Linked DNA regions of Homo sapiens: region 1 is linked to region 2. The links come from fine-mapping of genetic effects on gene expression. A gene starts in region 2. The other region holds a variant in brackets. All regions are shown on one strand. Distances are between the middles of the regions. Region 1 overlaps PLK1 (polo like kinase 1). Region 2 holds the start of DCTN5 (dynactin subunit 5).

Evidence for each region.
Region 1: its variant is fine-mapped to the expression of DCTN5 in whole blood (TOPMed, PIP 0.99).

The regions. Positions count from the first base shown.
Region 1 is chr16:23,689,041-23,697,261 of GRCh38, forward strand. It overlaps PLK1 (polo like kinase 1), which reads left to right. Exons shown (of 10, transcript NM_005030.6): 8 at 198-352; 9 at 454-636; 10 at 820-1,327. The coding sequence ends at 1,023. It overlaps ERN2 (endoplasmic reticulum to nucleus signaling 2), which reads right to left. Exons shown (of 22, transcript NM_033266.4): 14 at 6,854-6,938; 15 at 6,160-6,349; 16 at 5,979-6,078; 17 at 5,688-5,887; 18 at 3,144-3,291; 19 at 2,923-3,050; 20 at 2,262-2,385; 21 at 2,089-2,156; 22 at 1,270-2,003. The coding sequence ends at 1,791. Among named protein-coding and RNA genes, the nearest start is that of PLK1, 14 kb to the left of the region's middle. The variant G/T (reference allele first, on the strand shown) is at 3,399.
Region 2 is chr16:23,637,331-23,645,674 of GRCh38, forward strand. DCTN5 (dynactin subunit 5) reads left to right here and starts at 4,136. Exons shown (of 6, transcript NM_032486.4): 1 at 4,136-4,260; 2 at 5,625-5,693. The coding sequence starts at 4,213. PALB2 (partner and localizer of BRCA2) reads right to left here and starts at 3,980. Exons shown (of 13, transcript NM_024675.4): 1 at 3,780-3,980; 2 at 740-799; 3 at 520-622. The coding sequence starts at 3,827. RefSeq lists a silencer at 3,047-3,281 and an enhancer at 4,409-5,198.

The sequences.
Region 1 (8,221 bases), 52 kb after region 2:
CTCAGCTAATTTTTAAAATATTTTGTAGAGATGGGGTCTCATTACGTTGCCCAGGCTGGTCTCAAACTCCTGGGCTCAAACAATCCTCCTCCCTCAGCCTCCCAAAGTGCTGGAATCACAGGCATGTGCCACCACGCCCGGTCCCACTCCCCACTTTCTATTCCCCCTTTCTGAGACCTCTCTCCACCGATCCCTAGGGTATCAGCTCTGTGATAACAGCGTGGGGGTGCTCTTCAATGACTCAACACGCCTCATCCTCTACAATGATGGTGACAGCCTGCAGTACATAGAGCGTGACGGCACTGAGTCCTACCTCACCGTGAGTTCCCATCCCAACTCCTTGATGAAGAAGGTGAGTGCCGTCCGGCCCATGGGGGGTGGTGTTGCAGAAGTGGGACCTGTGCTGGAGGATCAGACTCTAATTCTGGAACCCCTTACCTACTTTTCATCCAGATCACCCTCCTTAAATATTTCCGCAATTACATGAGCGAGCACTTGCTGAAGGCAGGTGCCAACATCACGCCGCGCGAAGGTGATGAGCTCGCCCGGCTGCCCTACCTACGGACCTGGTTCCGCACCCGCAGCGCCATCATCCTGCACCTCAGCAACGGCAGCGTGCAGATCAACTTCTTCCAGGTGAGCTGGAGGTCACCAGGCGCAGGAGAGAGCTGGGGTAGGCTCCGCATGCCTGGCAGTGGCCCATGTGGGTTGAATGTGGAGTGAGCGGCTCAGGTACCTATAACCTGTTGTGTCTTCCCTCTACTCCCTAACATACACTGGCCTCTGGGATCGCCAACCCCTGCTGCTCTTCTCTTGCAGGATCACACCAAGCTCATCTTGTGCCCACTGATGGCAGCCGTGACCTACATCGACGAGAAGCGGGACTTCCGCACATACCGCCTGAGTCTCCTGGAGGAGTACGGCTGCTGCAAGGAGCTGGCCAGCCGGCTCCGCTACGCCCGCACTATGGTGGACAAGCTGCTGAGCTCACGCTCGGCCAGCAACCGTCTCAAGGCCTCCTAATAGCTGCCCTCCCCTCCGGACTGGTGCCCTCCTCACTCCCACCTGCATCTGGGGCCCATACTGGTTGGCTCCCGCGGTGCCATGTCTGCAGTGTGCCCCCCAGCCCCGGTGGCTGGGCAGAGCTGCATCATCCTTGCAGGTGGGGGTTGCTGTATAAGTTATTTTTGTACATGTTCGGGTGTGGGTTCTACAGCCTTGTCCCCCTCCCCCTCAACCCCACCATATGAATTGTACAGAATATTTCTATTGAATTCGGAACTGTCCTTTCCTTGGCTTTATGCACATTAAACAGATGTGAATATTCTTTTTCTTGTATTTCCTGAGGGGTGCCAGGGCCTGGGATCCAGCGAACATCTCTGCTTCATCAGCCCCAGGCTGCCCAGCCTCTGCCAGTCTTGTGGGGGAAAGGGGGTGACAGTGTCTCTCTGTGGACCAGGCTGGAGTGCAGTGGCATGATCCTGGCTCACTGCAGCCTCGAACTCCTGGGCTCAAGTGATTCTCCCACCTCAGCCTCCCAAGCAGCTGGGACTACAGGCGTGCGCCACCATGCCTGGCTAATTTTACAAATTTTTTGTAGAAATGGGGTGTTGCCATGTTGGCCAGGCTGGTCTCGAACTCCTGAGCTCAAGTGATCCTCTCACTCAGCCTCCCAAAATGCTGGGATTACAGGTGTGAGCCACTGCACCCAGCCTGATTCTGAGGCCAGCCACAGGCTCAGCTCTTCAGTGAGCCAGCACGGAGACCATCTGTGTGGCATCCAGCCCACCTCACCTCCCTGTGGCCCCAGGGCATGGCCTCCTGGCCTCTGAGTCTGGCGGGTAGTAGGGCAGGAAGAGGCTCTCAGAGGCGCAGCTCCTCATGGCTCGGTGCGTGTGGAGGAGCAGCCGTGGGAAGCGGTTTGTGAAGTACTGGACGAAGCCATCAGGGACTTGGCCGAGTGCCTGTCGCACCTCAACTGGGAGCTCCCTGTAGTGGTGCTTCTGTGGGTAGGTAGAGCAGAGAACCCTGGCTCAGCTGCGGCCAGGCCTTCCCAAGACCCAGGCCCACCCAGGCCCCAACACATACCTTGTTCCTCACAGCACGGAGCAGGTCTCGCACTGATGTCCCCTTATAGGACCGGAACTTTCTCAGATCTGTGGACAGGGAATTCAGTGGCAAAACCGTCCCTGCTAGACTCCCCTCCACCGCCCAGGCCCACTCCCCTCCACCGCCCAGGCCCACCTGAGTATGGCCTCTACCTGTCTGCAGCGGCATGGAGATGTGCTCGTGCCAGTTGTCCCGGACCACTGCGCAGCCTCCCGCCTCCAGTGCCCTCACCAGGGGCTCCTGCTCGGACTCCTTCTCCAGCCAGTCACTGACGTCCTGGGGCCCAGAGAGCTCCTGAGCCTTGTGACCGGGGCCAGAGGCCACATAGCCAGGAGTGTGTTGTCTTACAGGAGTAGTTTAGGGTGACTGACAAGGATCATTGCCTCTGGGGGCGTGAAGCTTCTCTGTGCCACGCCTCTGTTATTTACCACCAACCTATGAGCTTGGTACTGCTGTCCCTATTCTACAGATTGAGCAAACTGCAGTTCAGAGGCATGAAGTCTCTTGCTCAAGTTCACTCAAGTGCAGTGGGCTACTGGCACAGCATGAATGATGACTCGGGTGGAAAGGAATGGGCTATATTCCCATACAAAGGGCAGCTGGGGCTGGCAAAGCTGGCAGTGAATGGACCAGAGAGTGCCAAGATGGCGGAGTTTAGGAGTCCAGGCTGGCTCCCAGTTTAGGGAAAGAGCCAGGCTCCCAGGACCAGGTAGCTCTTCCTGTTTTCCCTCAGCTAATCTAATATCCCATTTCTTATTGCCCAGGACCCAAACTTAGGACTTTTGGGGGCCATTCCCAAGCTTTCCTTCTGACCTGGAAGAACTGGAGTTGCTTGGCTCTGCTCCAAAAGAAGGGGTGGGCCAGCACCTGGGGGGCAGAGGGGCGTGGCTGCGGCAGTGGGCTCAACATGGCTCCAACCAGGTCCCGGGCAACCACCTTGTCTGGAGGATGGAAGAGGAGGAGGAGAGTCTGCTTCAGGCCTGCCTAGCGTCTTGCCCGTCCTCCCTTCTCTGCCCTGCCCAGGGCTCCCTCACCGTGGACCTCTTCCTCCAGGTGAGCCAGACAGGGAGCCCCTGTGAGGATGTTTGCCTGGCGATAAAGACTGTCTCCAAAGGGGTGGCTGCCACCAGAAAGCACGTAGTAGAACACGCAGCCTGCAGAGAAGATGTCCACAGCGCTGGTCTGGAGCCAGAGAGATGGGCATGAGAAGGAAATCTCTGCTTCCAGGAAGTCAGCCTGGCTAAATTCTCCCATGGGCTGATAGAGCTGCCAGGGGTTTGGCTCAGACT[G/T]GAACTCAAGATGCTTCCTGGGCAGCATCTCCTTGGCTCTAGATCCCTCCCCTCTACACTACTATAGGGGGCCCATGGTTTTCATCCAAAACCTTTGCCCTTACTGAGCTAGTTCAGGTTTCCAAGCTTCATTCCTGCAGGGTATAGGGTTACATAAGTGGGTGCCATACATGAGGCAATAAGGCAATCAGGAGGACTGTGGTGACCTGGCATGGGTTTTTTCTGCAGGGGCAGCTGGTCCTTAGCTTCAACCGGTTGTCACCAGGGGACTCTCCAGGGTGGCAGAGCTGATTTTGTTTTTTTTTTTGTTGGGGCTTTGCTCATGTTGCCCAGGCTAGAGTGCAGTGGCGCAACCACAGCTCACTGTAACCTCAAACTCCTGGGCTCAAGCAATCTACCTCGGCCTGAGTAGGTGGGACTACAGGCATGTGCCACCATGCCTGACCAATTTTTAAATTGTTTGTAGAGATGGGTCTTCTTATGTTACCCAGCCCGATCTTGAACTTTTGGCCTCAAGCGATTCTGATTTTTTTTTTTTTTAAAGAAAATCCAGAAATCCAAATTTTATGTGGAATTTCTCAAATGTTAAAATATTGGGCCAGGCATGTGGCTGACACCTTGTAATCCCAGCACTTTGGGAGGCCAGGAGTTCAAGACCAGCGTGGGCAACATGGTGAGACCCTGCCTCTACAAAAAAATACAAAAATTAGCTGGGTGCCATGTTGTGTGCCTGTAGTCCCAGCTACTTGGGAGGCTGAGGTGAGAGGATCCCTTGAGCCCAGGAGTTTAAGGCTGCAGTAAGCTGTGATGGTATGACTGCACTCCATGACAGAGCAAGACCCTGTCTCAAAAATATATATATATAGGGCCAAGCACAGTGGCTCATGCCTATAATCTCAGCACTTTGGGAGGCCGAGGTAGGTGAATCACCTGAGGGCTGGGAGTTCGAGACCAGCCTGGCCAACATGGCATAAACCCCATCTCTACTAAAAATACAAAAATTAACTGGGCATGGTGGCACCTGCCTATAGTCCCAGCTACTAGGGAGGCTGAGGCAGGAGAATCACTTGAACCCAGGAGGTGGAGGTTGCAGTGAGCTGAGATCATGTCACTGCACTCCAGCTTGGGCAACAAGAGCGAAACTCCATCTCAAAAAAAAAAAAATATATATATATATAGGCCACTAATTTAAATATAAACTGTATAGTCTCATGACATCATGCATTTAGTCCTTGAGCCCTGCTCACCACTTTGAGCTTTCTCTCAACTTTAGGAGTGGGGGCAGCCTTCCCTGGTGACTGTCCTTTTGTGTGATTGGCATCCATTTCTCTGGCTTCAACTTCCGCCCACACACTGTGACTCAAAATCCGTAATTCAGGGGTCCCAAACGCAAGTGTCTGTGTGGGTCAGACGCTGCTCTGTGTATCAACTAATTAGCTCATCTGATGCCCTCCAAAACCTTCGATACCAGTGGTTCTGGAACTTGGCTCCACATAAAAATGACCCAGGCAATTAGGTAAAAATCACGGGGTGTGGGGCCTGGGGTTTTGTTTGTTTGTTTGTTTTTTGTTTTTTGAGAGAAAGAGTCTCACTCTGTTGTCCAGGCTAGAGTGCAGTAGTGTGATCTTGACTCTGGAACTTCCACCTCCCAGGCTCAAGCGATCCTCCCACCTCAGCCTCCCAAGTAGCTGGGACCACAGATGCACACACCCACACCGGCTAAATTGTGTGTGCTTTTGGTAGAGACGAGGTCTCCCTAGGTTACCCAGGCTGGTCTCGAACTCCTGAGCTCAAGCAATCTGCCTGCCTCGGCCTCTCAAAGTGCTGGGATTACAGGCGTGAGCCACCGCACCCGGCAATGGGCATTCTTTTTTTAAGTTGCGCAGTGGTTGTGAAGCACAGTGAAGATTACAAACCATTTTCTAGCTCAGGGTTTCCCAACCTCAGCACAACTGGCATTTTGTTAGTTCTTTGTGTTGGGTGTTGTCCTGTCCTGTAAGACATTTAGCAGCATTTCCAGCAGATGCCAGTAGCCCCTCCCTCCCAAGTCATGGCAGTCAAAAATGTCTCCAGACATTGCCTAATGTCCCCTGGGTGGCAAAACAGTCCTGATACTGCTGTAGAAGGAGGGACAAATTATCCCTTCTTTAAGGGAAACAAGCTTGGAGGAGCAGCTCAAAGTCACACAGCAAGTGTCATGGAGTCTCCTCAGGAGGGGAACTGGGACAGGGACGGATTCCTGCAGCCTGGGGCAGCTGTGTGCCTGGAGGACTTGGTGGATAGACTCACAGGACTGTCTGGTGGCAGGAGCTGCAGAAGCTCGGGCGCCATCCAGCCTTCCGTGCCGGGGATGCCGGAGTGGAGGCTGAAGCTACAGCGGCCAGCAGGCAGCTTCTTGCAGAGGCCGAAGTCTGAGAGCACCACTCTGCCCAGGCCCTGGCTGTCAGGCCCGGTGATGAGAATATTTCCTGGCTTCAGGTCCCGGTGCACTGTGGGAGAGGGGCAGAAAGAAAGCTGGTTGCTGAGGGCGGAAGGCAGGGGCTAAGGACAGGGAGCGGGAGGCAGGGGAAGTGCGGGTACCTATGTGTAAAGAGTGCAGGTGGGCCAGGCCAGACATCAGCTGCTGCAGCACGACCTCGGGCTCCAGACCCCCGCGATCCAGGTCCGGGTTTTCTACGTACTGAGCAGCAGCAAGGGCCAAAGCATCACTCTCCAGCCCGGACCTTCCCACTCACCCTCCCTGAACCGCAATGCAACTCACCTCCTGCAAGGAGGCCCGGCAGAGCTCCAGGGCAATGTAGTGGAACTGGGGTCCCCGCTCGGTGCAGAAGTAGCGGAGCACGTTGGGGTGCCTGTCAGACTCCTGCAGCAGTTGAACTTCCCGCCGAACCAGGCCAAAGCACTCGCGGAGGAGCCGCTTGACAGCCACTGCCCGTCCCTCAAACTGTCCCCTGGAAAGTGGGTGATGGCGGGGGCAGGGGGGCATTCAGGGAAAGCAGATAAAGGGACAAACATGGTGGCTCACACCTGTAATCCTAGCACTTTGGGAGGCCAAGGCGGGCGGGTCACTTGAGGTCAGGAGTTCGAGACCAGCCTGGCCAACATGGTGAAACCCCCATCTCTACTAAAAAAAATATAAAAATTAGCCGGGCATGGTGATACACACCTGTAATCCCAGCTACTGGGAAGGCTGAGGCCCGGAATTGCTTGAACCTGGGAAGCGGAGGTTGCAGTGAGCTGAGATTGCACCACTGCCCTCCAGCCTGGGCAACAGAGCAAGACTCAAAAAAAAAAAAAAAAAAAAAAAAACAGATAAAGGAAAGAGCAGGACTGGCGAGTGAGGGATCAACCTGTACCCACCTCGGGGAGTCTTTGAAAGAATGTCTCTCCAGGGGACAGTGCCCACGAGGGCTGTGAGTGCCATGTCCCCAGCTTGGCTCCTGGCTGCCACTCACCGGAAAACGAAAGTCCCGCCTGCCCCGCGGCCCAGCACGTCCTTGGGATTGAAGGAAATCTTCCCCACTACGGTGAGTTGCTCAGCTGGGGGAGAGGAGGGTGGTGACTCAGGGAGCCTCTGCCCACCTTTGCCGGCCACTGGCCCAGTCCAGACTCACCTTGACATTTTCTGGGCCTCCACCCTCCCATGCTCAGCCTGGTGCAGTGGGTAAGAGCAAGGGCCCAAGTGCCAGACTGTCTGGATCCAATGCCTGGTGCTGCCACTGATTCTTTGTCTACTTAGGCAAATTCCTCACTTCTGTGCCCTCGGTATTCTCATCTGTAGAGTGGGGAGCTAAAGCTAAAGAGCCCACACAATATTATTGTGAGGATTAAATGGATATATGGAAAGAACGGGTGGAGGTGATGTTTGCTATATTATCCTCTTTTATTTCTCTCCCTCTTTCAGCATCTTCTGCACAGGTTTGTTTTGTTTTGCTTTGTTTTCCCTTTACATCCTCTGCCATTCTGCCCACCTCCACCAGTTGTAACTGAATCCTTTTAATTGACACTGAATCAGCTTCAACTTCAAGGTAAGGTGAGTTCTGGCAGTTGGAAGAGTGATGAGAGTGAGTATAGCCACAGAAAAAAGACTGGACCGGACAGAAGCAGTGGGCATTGGATGCTAACCTGCCCAGAGTTAGTTCCAGGGCAGCAGGGGTACCCCTAGAGGCCTCGGTTTCCCATTAGGATGGGTGGGGTCGGCTCAGGTGGGCAAAGATCTGTAGGTTGGGACAATTACTGCCCTTCCCTTTGGGCAGCCTGTGAGAGACGTCTCACTCTGACCCTGGCAAATCTGGGCAGGCTGTGTCCTGCTCAGCTCCAACGGGCACTATTCATATGGCAAAACATATATGGCACCCCTAGAGTTGTGCAGTGCGGTGGTCCTGAGAACACTCTACTTTATAAGAGTTTTTAGCTTCAGTTTTTACAATCAGCTCTGGGAAGAGTAAATGAAAATCAGCATTAGGGCTGGGCACCGTGGCTCACACCTGTAATCCCAGCACTTTGGGAGGCCGGGAAAGGTGGATCACTTGAGTTCAAGACCAGCCTGGGAACATGATGAAACCCCATCTTTACAAAAAAAACTAGCCAGGCATGGTGTTGTGTGCCTGTCATCCAGCTACTCAGTAGGCTGAGGTGGGAGGATTGGCTTGAGCCTGGGAAGCAGATGTTGCAGTGAGCTGAGATCACGCCACTACATTTCAGCCTGAGTGACACAGCAAGACCCTATCTCAATAATTAATAATAATAATAATAATAATAATAATAATAATAATAAAATCAGCATTAGGGATCAGTGAGAAAACACCAAGTTGCACCTTAGC
Region 2 (8,344 bases):
CAAGAGAGGGAAAAAGAATAAACAGTCTAACTGAAAATAGAGACTATAGATTTTACGGCATATGAATTTTATGTTAATTAGAATATATTGCAGCCGGGCACAGTGGCTCACACCTGTATCCCAGCACTTTGGGAGGCCCAGGCAGACAGATCATTTGAAGCCAGGGGTTCAAGACCGGCCTGGCCAACATGGCGAAACCCCATCTCTACTAAAAATATAACAATTAGTCAGGTGTGGTAGTGCACGTGCCTGTAGTCCCAGCTACTCAGGAGGCTGAGGCACGAGAATCACTTGAGCCTGGGAGTTGGAGGTTGTAGTGAGCCAAGATTGTGCCACTGCACTCCAGCCTGGGTAACAAAGAGTGAGACTCTGTCTCAAAAAAATAAAATTAAAATTAAAATTAAAATTAAAGCGTCTATTGCTAGTCATTATCTTCACACTGTGGGAAAAAGAACAATAGCCAAAATATACCTGGGAAATGAATAATAAAGCAGGCATAAGTGAATGGTCTAGATTTACCTGAGTGTTTTAGCTGCGGTGAGAGATCCTGCTGAGACAAACAATCTTGTTCTTCTACTGTTTTCTTAATAGAATGCTTAATCTTTTCAGCTCTTTGGGCACGCTAGAGGAGACAAAAACAGCCCCAGAAATACGTTTTCTTTAAAGTTTTATAGAGTCAAGAACTGTTTTTAAATTGTTTGTACTATAACACCTTAATTTGAGAATACGATTCACTTACCTGAAGGCGGGCTAGTGTCTTGCTGTATTCCCTTTTCAAGAATGCTAATTTCTCCTTTAACTGGAAGAAGAAAAACACCAACAATACTGGGCAAGTGGAAAGGTGGAGTCAGAGGGAAGGGATGCAGTGCTTGGCGGGGTCCCTTGGCAAGAGGCAGGGAGTAGCACTGGTCCATAACAATCTACTTTTGGTTCTCAAAAAGCACCAAGCTCTGACCATTTCAGGATCTTTGCATAACCTGTTCCTATCATCTGGAACATGTCCTTCCTTTGCCAATTCCTACTGATTCCTCAAACCTTAGCTTAGATTTTTATTTCCCTGGGATAGACTTCTAGGTCCTTCTCCAAATCTAGGTTAGACACTCTACCAGTCCTCTGTACTTTCCTTACCACAGTATTCTCACACTATGTTCTCTGTTTCTCCCCATCATCCAGATCCTTGAAGGTAGCAGGAACTGCCATCCTCAGTCACTCAACAAATGAATCTTCTATTTATCCGTTAATGGTCCAGGTATCTCTAGTACCTGGAATAATAATTGATACCCACTATGTGTCAATTAGTGCTCCAGATGCTATTCTAGATGCAATTTACATACAGTGAGGGAGACAGATAATAAATAAGAAAACAAACAGAAATGATTTTACAAGGTAAAAAAATACACAGATAAACAGAGTGATATGAGAGAGTTACTGGCCTACTGACAGGGACTACTTTAGTTACAGTGGTCAGGGAGGCATTTTTGACTATCATTTGAGCCTAAGACTGAATGAGGAAGGAGCTAGTTTTGGGAAGATCAGAGGGAACGGTACCCCAGGCAGAGGGAACCACAAATATAAAAGCTCTGCAGTGGAATAGGTTACCTACGTTTGAGGAACACGCAGAAGGCCAGTGAGGTTGGAGCTATCATTGCTCAATCTCCAGCCAGGCACACAGTAGGCATTTAACAAATATTTATTAAATAAATAAATGAATTGGGCTGAATCAAATTACTGTTCTCTGAAAGCCTAGATTCCCTCGTCTCTCTGGCTTCTTTGCTTCAAAGGATTCTCTCAGCAGCAAAGCCAGCCTCGGTTTTTCTGCTTTTTAGCAACTTTTTAGCTGTACTCATCTTTCAACCAACAAAACATCAAGATTTCCATCCTCCATACATGCCTTTTTTAAAAAAAAGAAAAGACCTACTCAGCTGGGCGCAGTGGCTCACGCCTGTAATCCCAACACTTGGGGAAGCTGAGGTGGGTGGATCATTTGAGGTCAAGAGTTCGAGACCCGCCTGGCCAACATGGTGAAATCCTGCTTCTACTAAAGATACAAAAATGAGCCGGGTGTGGTGGTGGGTGCCTGTAGGAGGCTGAAGCAGGAGAATTGCTTGAACCCGGAGGCGGAGGTTGCAGTGGGCCTAGATCACGCCACTGCACTCCAGCCTGGGCAACAGAGCGAGACTCTGCTTGAAAAAAAAAAAAAAAAAAAAGGCCGGGTGCAGTGGCTCACACCTGTAATCCCAGCACTTTGGAAGGCCAAGGCGGGCAGATTACCTGAGGTCAGGAGTTCAAAACCAGCCTGGCCAACATGGAGAAACCCTGTCTCTACTAAAAATACAAAAATTAGCCCGGCGTGGTGTTGGGCGTCTGTAATCCCAACTACTCGGGAGGCTGAGGCAGGAGAATCGCTTGAACCTGAGAGGCGGAGGTTGCAGTGAGCCAAGATCGAGCCACTGCACTCCAGCCTGGGAGATAGAGCGGAGAGTCTGTCTCAAAAACAAACAAAACAAAACCTATGTGCAAAACATGCTACTAGACAAGTTGCCAACCGTAAGGAATTTTCTTTTTTTTTGAGAGACAGTCTCACTCTGTCGTCCAGCCTGGCGTGCAGTGGCGCGATCTCGGCAGCTCCCTGCAACCTCAGCGTCCCCTGGTTCAAGCGATTCTCGTGCATCAGCCTCTGAGGCCTGAGCCTCTGGGACTACAGGCTGGCGTCACCACACCCGGCTAATTTTTGTATTTTTAGTAGAGACGGGGTTTCACTACGTTGCCTAGGCTGGTCTCAAACTCTGAGCTCAAGCGATCTGCCCATCTCGGCCTCCCAAAGTGCGGGGATTACAGGCGTGAGCCAGGGAGACTGGCCTCCCACCAATCTTATCAATGTCTGGGGATTATCTTGTTTACTTATAAATGATCTTTCTCACCTCCACCAGAAGGTAAGCCAGGATAAGAATAACATCAGCACAAGCTGGAAACATCCTAAAAGTCTATCAGTAAAGTACAGTCTAAAGAAGCAAGGGCACTTCCAAGGCCAGGTGCAGTGGCGGGTTCGTGTAATCCCAGCTACTCGGGAGGCTGAGGCAGGAGAGTCGCTTGATCCCAGGAAGCGGAGGTTGCAGTGAGCCGAGATCGCGCCACTGCACCCCAGCATGGGTGGCAGAGTGAGACTCTGTCTCAAAAAAGAAGAAAAACAGAAAAGGAAGAAAAAAGAAACAAAACGAGGGCACTTCCAAACTACAACATACTGTCTAGAACTTAAAAAAGAAAGCAAGGTAGATAAACATGTCCTGACAGGAAAGCTAAACGGAACCTGCAGAACCATTCAGATCATACCATTTATGAACATTCCCTTCTCCAAAAAATATACATAGGATTCCTTTTTGGTGGTTAGGGATACGCCCCTCCTCCACCACCCACATTAACACACGAAAGGACCTGGAAGTACCAGACTTAAAAGATTTACTTGAGGCCGTCCGGGGGGAGAAGTAAAGATTGAGGGTGTGGGAGGGGGGAGGAGCAAGGGTGTCGATACAGCTTTATCTACAAACTGTTACACATTGTATTAATGCGCTGCTACTGTAATGAAATTTGTTCTTTAAACGCCACCACGTGAGCACCACGCTATTTCCACATTTTCATTTTCTGTGCCCCCTCAGCCCTAAGAGGAGGGGGTGGTCAGATGATACTGCTGCCCTCGGACTGCCGAGGACACAAAGCCAGGCCTAAAACCCTGGGAAAGCGGGGTCAGAGTCCTGCGTCCGCCCTTCCCGCACCCCCGGCACCTTTTCCTTCTCCTCACAGCTGAGGGGCTTCCCGGGAGGCTCGTCCATCGGGCAGGCGACAGAACGAAAAGAGCAGCCGTCGCCGACCCCAGGCCTGCCGACACCGGGACCCAGTTGGCCCTGGGCCGGGGAGGCGCCCCAGGAAGGAATGGGGAGCCCGGGATCGCACCCTCAGTGCGCGATCAGCTGACCCACGCGGGCCAAGCGCGCCCTAAACTCCGGCCAATTAAATCCACCATTCGGCCTGCGCACGCGCAGCCGTAGACGGCCGAGCAGTGGAGCGAGGCCGCCTAAAGGAGAGCCGCGCTGTCGATGAGTCCCAGTGGGCCACCTGGAGCGGAAGTGGAGGAGCGGCCGGAAGTAGCCGGAATCTCTGAAAGACTGACCGACTGACTCTGACAGGATCCGGGGCTGAGGGAAGGAGGCGGCGGCCATGGAGTTGGGCGAGCTGCTCTACAACAAGTCTGAGTACATCGAGACGGTGCGCGGGTCCAGATATGTATCCTCCTCTTTCCAACCCTGCGTCCCTTTGAGGCCTGGTCGGCGTTCCCAACCTGCCCCTACCCCACCAACCCCTGTCCCTTTGGCCATTAGTCCCGGATTATCTAGCGATGCCCCGTGTACCGTCTGGCTTTGCTGTTTACTCCGCGCTTGGCCAGTTGAGGCCTTTTGTATTTATTCCTGATTTTCTCATAGGGGTAAAGTGCCTTCGGGAGGATAGGACAAGTCCCATCCTGTTCATACGAATTACAGCTCGGACTTCGGGCCCTTTTACACTGCCTTTTGTATCTGTTAACTTGCGCTAAAAACGATTCGGTTCTTTTTTTTTGAGGAAGGGGGTTGGGGGGCGGAGACTCTGTCGCCCAGTCCTGAGGGCCGCGGCGCGATCTCTGCTCACTGCAACCTCCGCCTCCCGGGTTCAAGCGATTCTCCTGCCTCAGCGTCTCGAGTAGCTGGGATTACAGGCGCCCGCCACCACGCCCGGCTAATTTTTGTATTTTTTGGTAGAGACGGGGTTTCACCGTGTTGGCCAGGCAGGTCCCTAACTCTTGACCTCAGGTGATCGACCCGCCTCGGCCTCCCAAAGTGCTGGCATTACAGGCGTGAGCCACCGCACCCTGCCGATTTGGTTCTTTATGATCAGTACATGATATGTTTGTAAAATCTTGGAAACAGGGCAAGTGGTCAATTAACGTTACTATCGTTATTTTGGTTTTCTTTGCTTTCTCACAACTCTGATACTCATAGTCATTATCCTCGTTTTAAGGCCGTAAAGCCCACGCGTGGAAGTGGGATTTGAATCCGCGTCTGTCTGATGCCACCAAGCTATAGACATTCAAATTATGAGTTTATTCCTTGAGTCCCTAGTTTCCTTTGTGTTTTTATTTTTTGAGACAGGTTCTCACTCTGTTGCCCAGGCTGGAGTGCAGTGGCACAATCACAGCTCATTGCAGCCTCGGCCTTCCAGGCTCAAGCGATCCTCTAGCCTCAGCCTTCTGAGGAGCTGGGACTACAGACACGCGCCACCATGCCCGGCTAATTAAAAAATTTTTTTTTTGTTGAGAAGGGGTCTCACTATGTTGCCTAGGCTGGTCTTGAGCTCCTGTCCTCAAGGGATCCGTCTGCCTCAGCCTCTCAAAGTGCTGAGATTACAGGCATGAGCCACCATACTCAGCCATAGTTTCCTAATCCATCATTGCTTTTTTGATATCCTGGACTCACTCCATTGTGGACAGCACCCCACTTTATGTTTTTTTCTCTCAAATGGGAGCTTTCTTGATGGAAACCTGTAGTCCAGAAACCTATTAAGTTTGCTTTCCCCGGTTTTCCGTTGTTTTCTTTTAGGCATCTGGGAACAAAGTCAGTCGCCAGTCAGTGTTGTGTGGAAGCCAGAACATCGTTCTCAATGGCAAGGTAAGGGACAAAGCCAGCTCCAGGCTGCAAACCTTAGCTTGCGTTCTGCTAATTGTCACCACAGCAGGGCAGATAAAATGTTGCCATATCTCCTATTTATTGTTTACATTTTTAATTCTCTTGTTTTTAAATTTTTTATTTTGTAAATTGGATCTCCTTTTTGTTTTTTTTTTGTTTCGGTTTTTTTTGAGACAGTCTCACTCTGTCGCCCAGGCTGGAGTGCAGTGGCCCCATCTCAGGTCGCTGCAACCTCCGTCTCCCAGGTTCAACCAGTTCTCCTGCCTCAGCCTCCCGAGTAGCTGGGATTACAGGCAGCTGCCACCAAGCCCGGCTAATATTTTGTATTTTTAGTAGAGACAGGGTTTCATCATGTTGGCCAGGCTGGTCTTGAACTCCTGCCCTCAAGTGATCCACCCACCTCGGCCTCCCAAAGTGCTGGGATTATAGGTGTGAGCCACTGCACCCAGCCTAAGTTGGATCTCTTGAATGCAAAAAGGTTCAATAAGAGGCAACAGAAAACCTTTTTTCTTTTATGCCAGGAACAAAATACAGTGGTACCTAGAACCAACATTATTTTATGATATAGTGTGCATTAAACTACTGGGCACAAAGTGTAACAGGTAATGAAATATTTGAAGGTAGAAACTAAAGTAATACTTATAAAATTATCTCTTTAGTAAAAATTAATAATTCACTATTAACTGAAACTCTTAAAACGAATGTGACAATTGGAAAAGATATTAAAGTATGAGACAAATATGCAAAGTGGAATCTGAAAGCCTGAGAATCTTGTAATCCAAATAAATTACAATAGCAAAGAGACGAGTATAAACTTGGAAGAGAAAATATCACAGGGTATATTTGAGCTTGACAAACAGTGAAGTTCACAGTTGTTTTCCTGCCATCTGGAACACTCAATTTTGAAATTAATTTTTCTTTAAATATTACATCTCTAACTTCCAGAAGGAAAATAGTCTCCTTATAACCAAGAGATCACAAATATTTTCAGTAGAAGATAATTAGTCTCCATTAAGCCTGTCATACCAAGGAATTAAGTGGAAAAGAAATATAATTCAGTAATTGCTGCTCAGACATACTGTTTCTTTTTTTTCCTTTTTTGTTGAGACAGAGTATTGCTCTGTCACCCAGGTCGGAGTACAGTGGCGCGATCTTGGCTCACTGCAACTTCCACCTCCTGGCATCAGGTGATTCTCCTGCCTCAGCCTCCAGAGTAGCTGGGATTACAGGCTCCCGCCATCATGCCCACCTAATTTTTTTTTTTTTTTTTTTTTTTTGAGATGGAGTCTCGCCCTGTTGCCCAGGTTGGAGTGCAGTGGTGCGATTTTGGCTCACTGTAAGCTCCGCCTCCCAGGCTCACGCCATTCTCCTGCCTCAGCCTCCTGAGTAGCTAGGACTACAGGCACCCACCACCATGCCCAGCTAATTTTTTGTATTTTTATCAGAGATGGGGTTTCACCGTGTTAGCCAGGATGGTCTCAATCTCCTGACCTCGTGATCCACCTGCCTTGTCCTCCGAAAGTGCTGGGATTACAGGCGTGAGCCACCGCGCCTGGCCTAATTTTTGTATTTTTAGTAGAGACAGGGTTTCACCATATTGGCCAGGCTGGTCTTGAACTCCTCACCTCAGATGATCCATCCACTTCAGCCTCCCAAAGTGCTGGGATTACAGGCATGAGCCACCACGCCCAGCCCAAGATTTTTTTTCTTATGGTGAACTATGTATAACAATTTGCCATTTTAACAATTTTTTAAAAATTTTTATTATTTGAGACAGTTGCCCAGGCTGGAGTGAAGCGGCGCCATCTCAGTCGCCACAACCTCCGCCTCTTGGCTTCAAGGATTCTCATGCCTCAGCCTCCTGTGTAGCTGGGACTACAGGTGCACGCCACTACACTGGGCTAATTTTTGTATTTTTAGTAGAGGCAGGGTTTTGCCACGTTGGCCAGGCTGGTCTCAAACTCTTGGCCTCAAGTGATCCACCTGCCTTGGCCTCTCAAAGTACTGGGATTACAAGTGTGAGCCACTGCACCCAGCCTAACTATATATATATATATATATATATATATATATATATATATATATATATATATATATTTTTTTTTTTTTTAATACGCAGTTTTGCTCTTGTTGCCCAGGCTGGAGTGCAATGGCACGATCTCGGCTCACCACAACCTCCGCCTCCCAGGTTCAAGTGATTCTCCTGCCTCAGACTCCCCAGTTACAGGCATGTGCCACCATGCCCAGCTAATTTTATATTTTTAATAGAGGCGGGGTTTCTCCATGTTGATCAGGCTGGTCTCGAACTCCCGACCTCAGGTGATCTGCCCTCCTTGGCCTTCCAAAGTGCTGGAATTACAGGCATGAGCCACTGCGCCCAGCCTTACCAATTTTTAAGTGTACAATTAGTTGCATTAATTACATTCACAATGTTGTGCAACCATCTCCACTATCCATTTCCAAAATTTTTTCATCACCCCAAATAAAAACTCTACACATTAAGGAATACACGCCCATTCCCTACTTCCTTCCATTGCTGATAGCCTGAATCTACTTTCTGTCTCTATGAATTTGCCTATTCTGGATATTTCATATAAGTGGAATCATACAATATTTGTCCTTTTTGTCTGGCT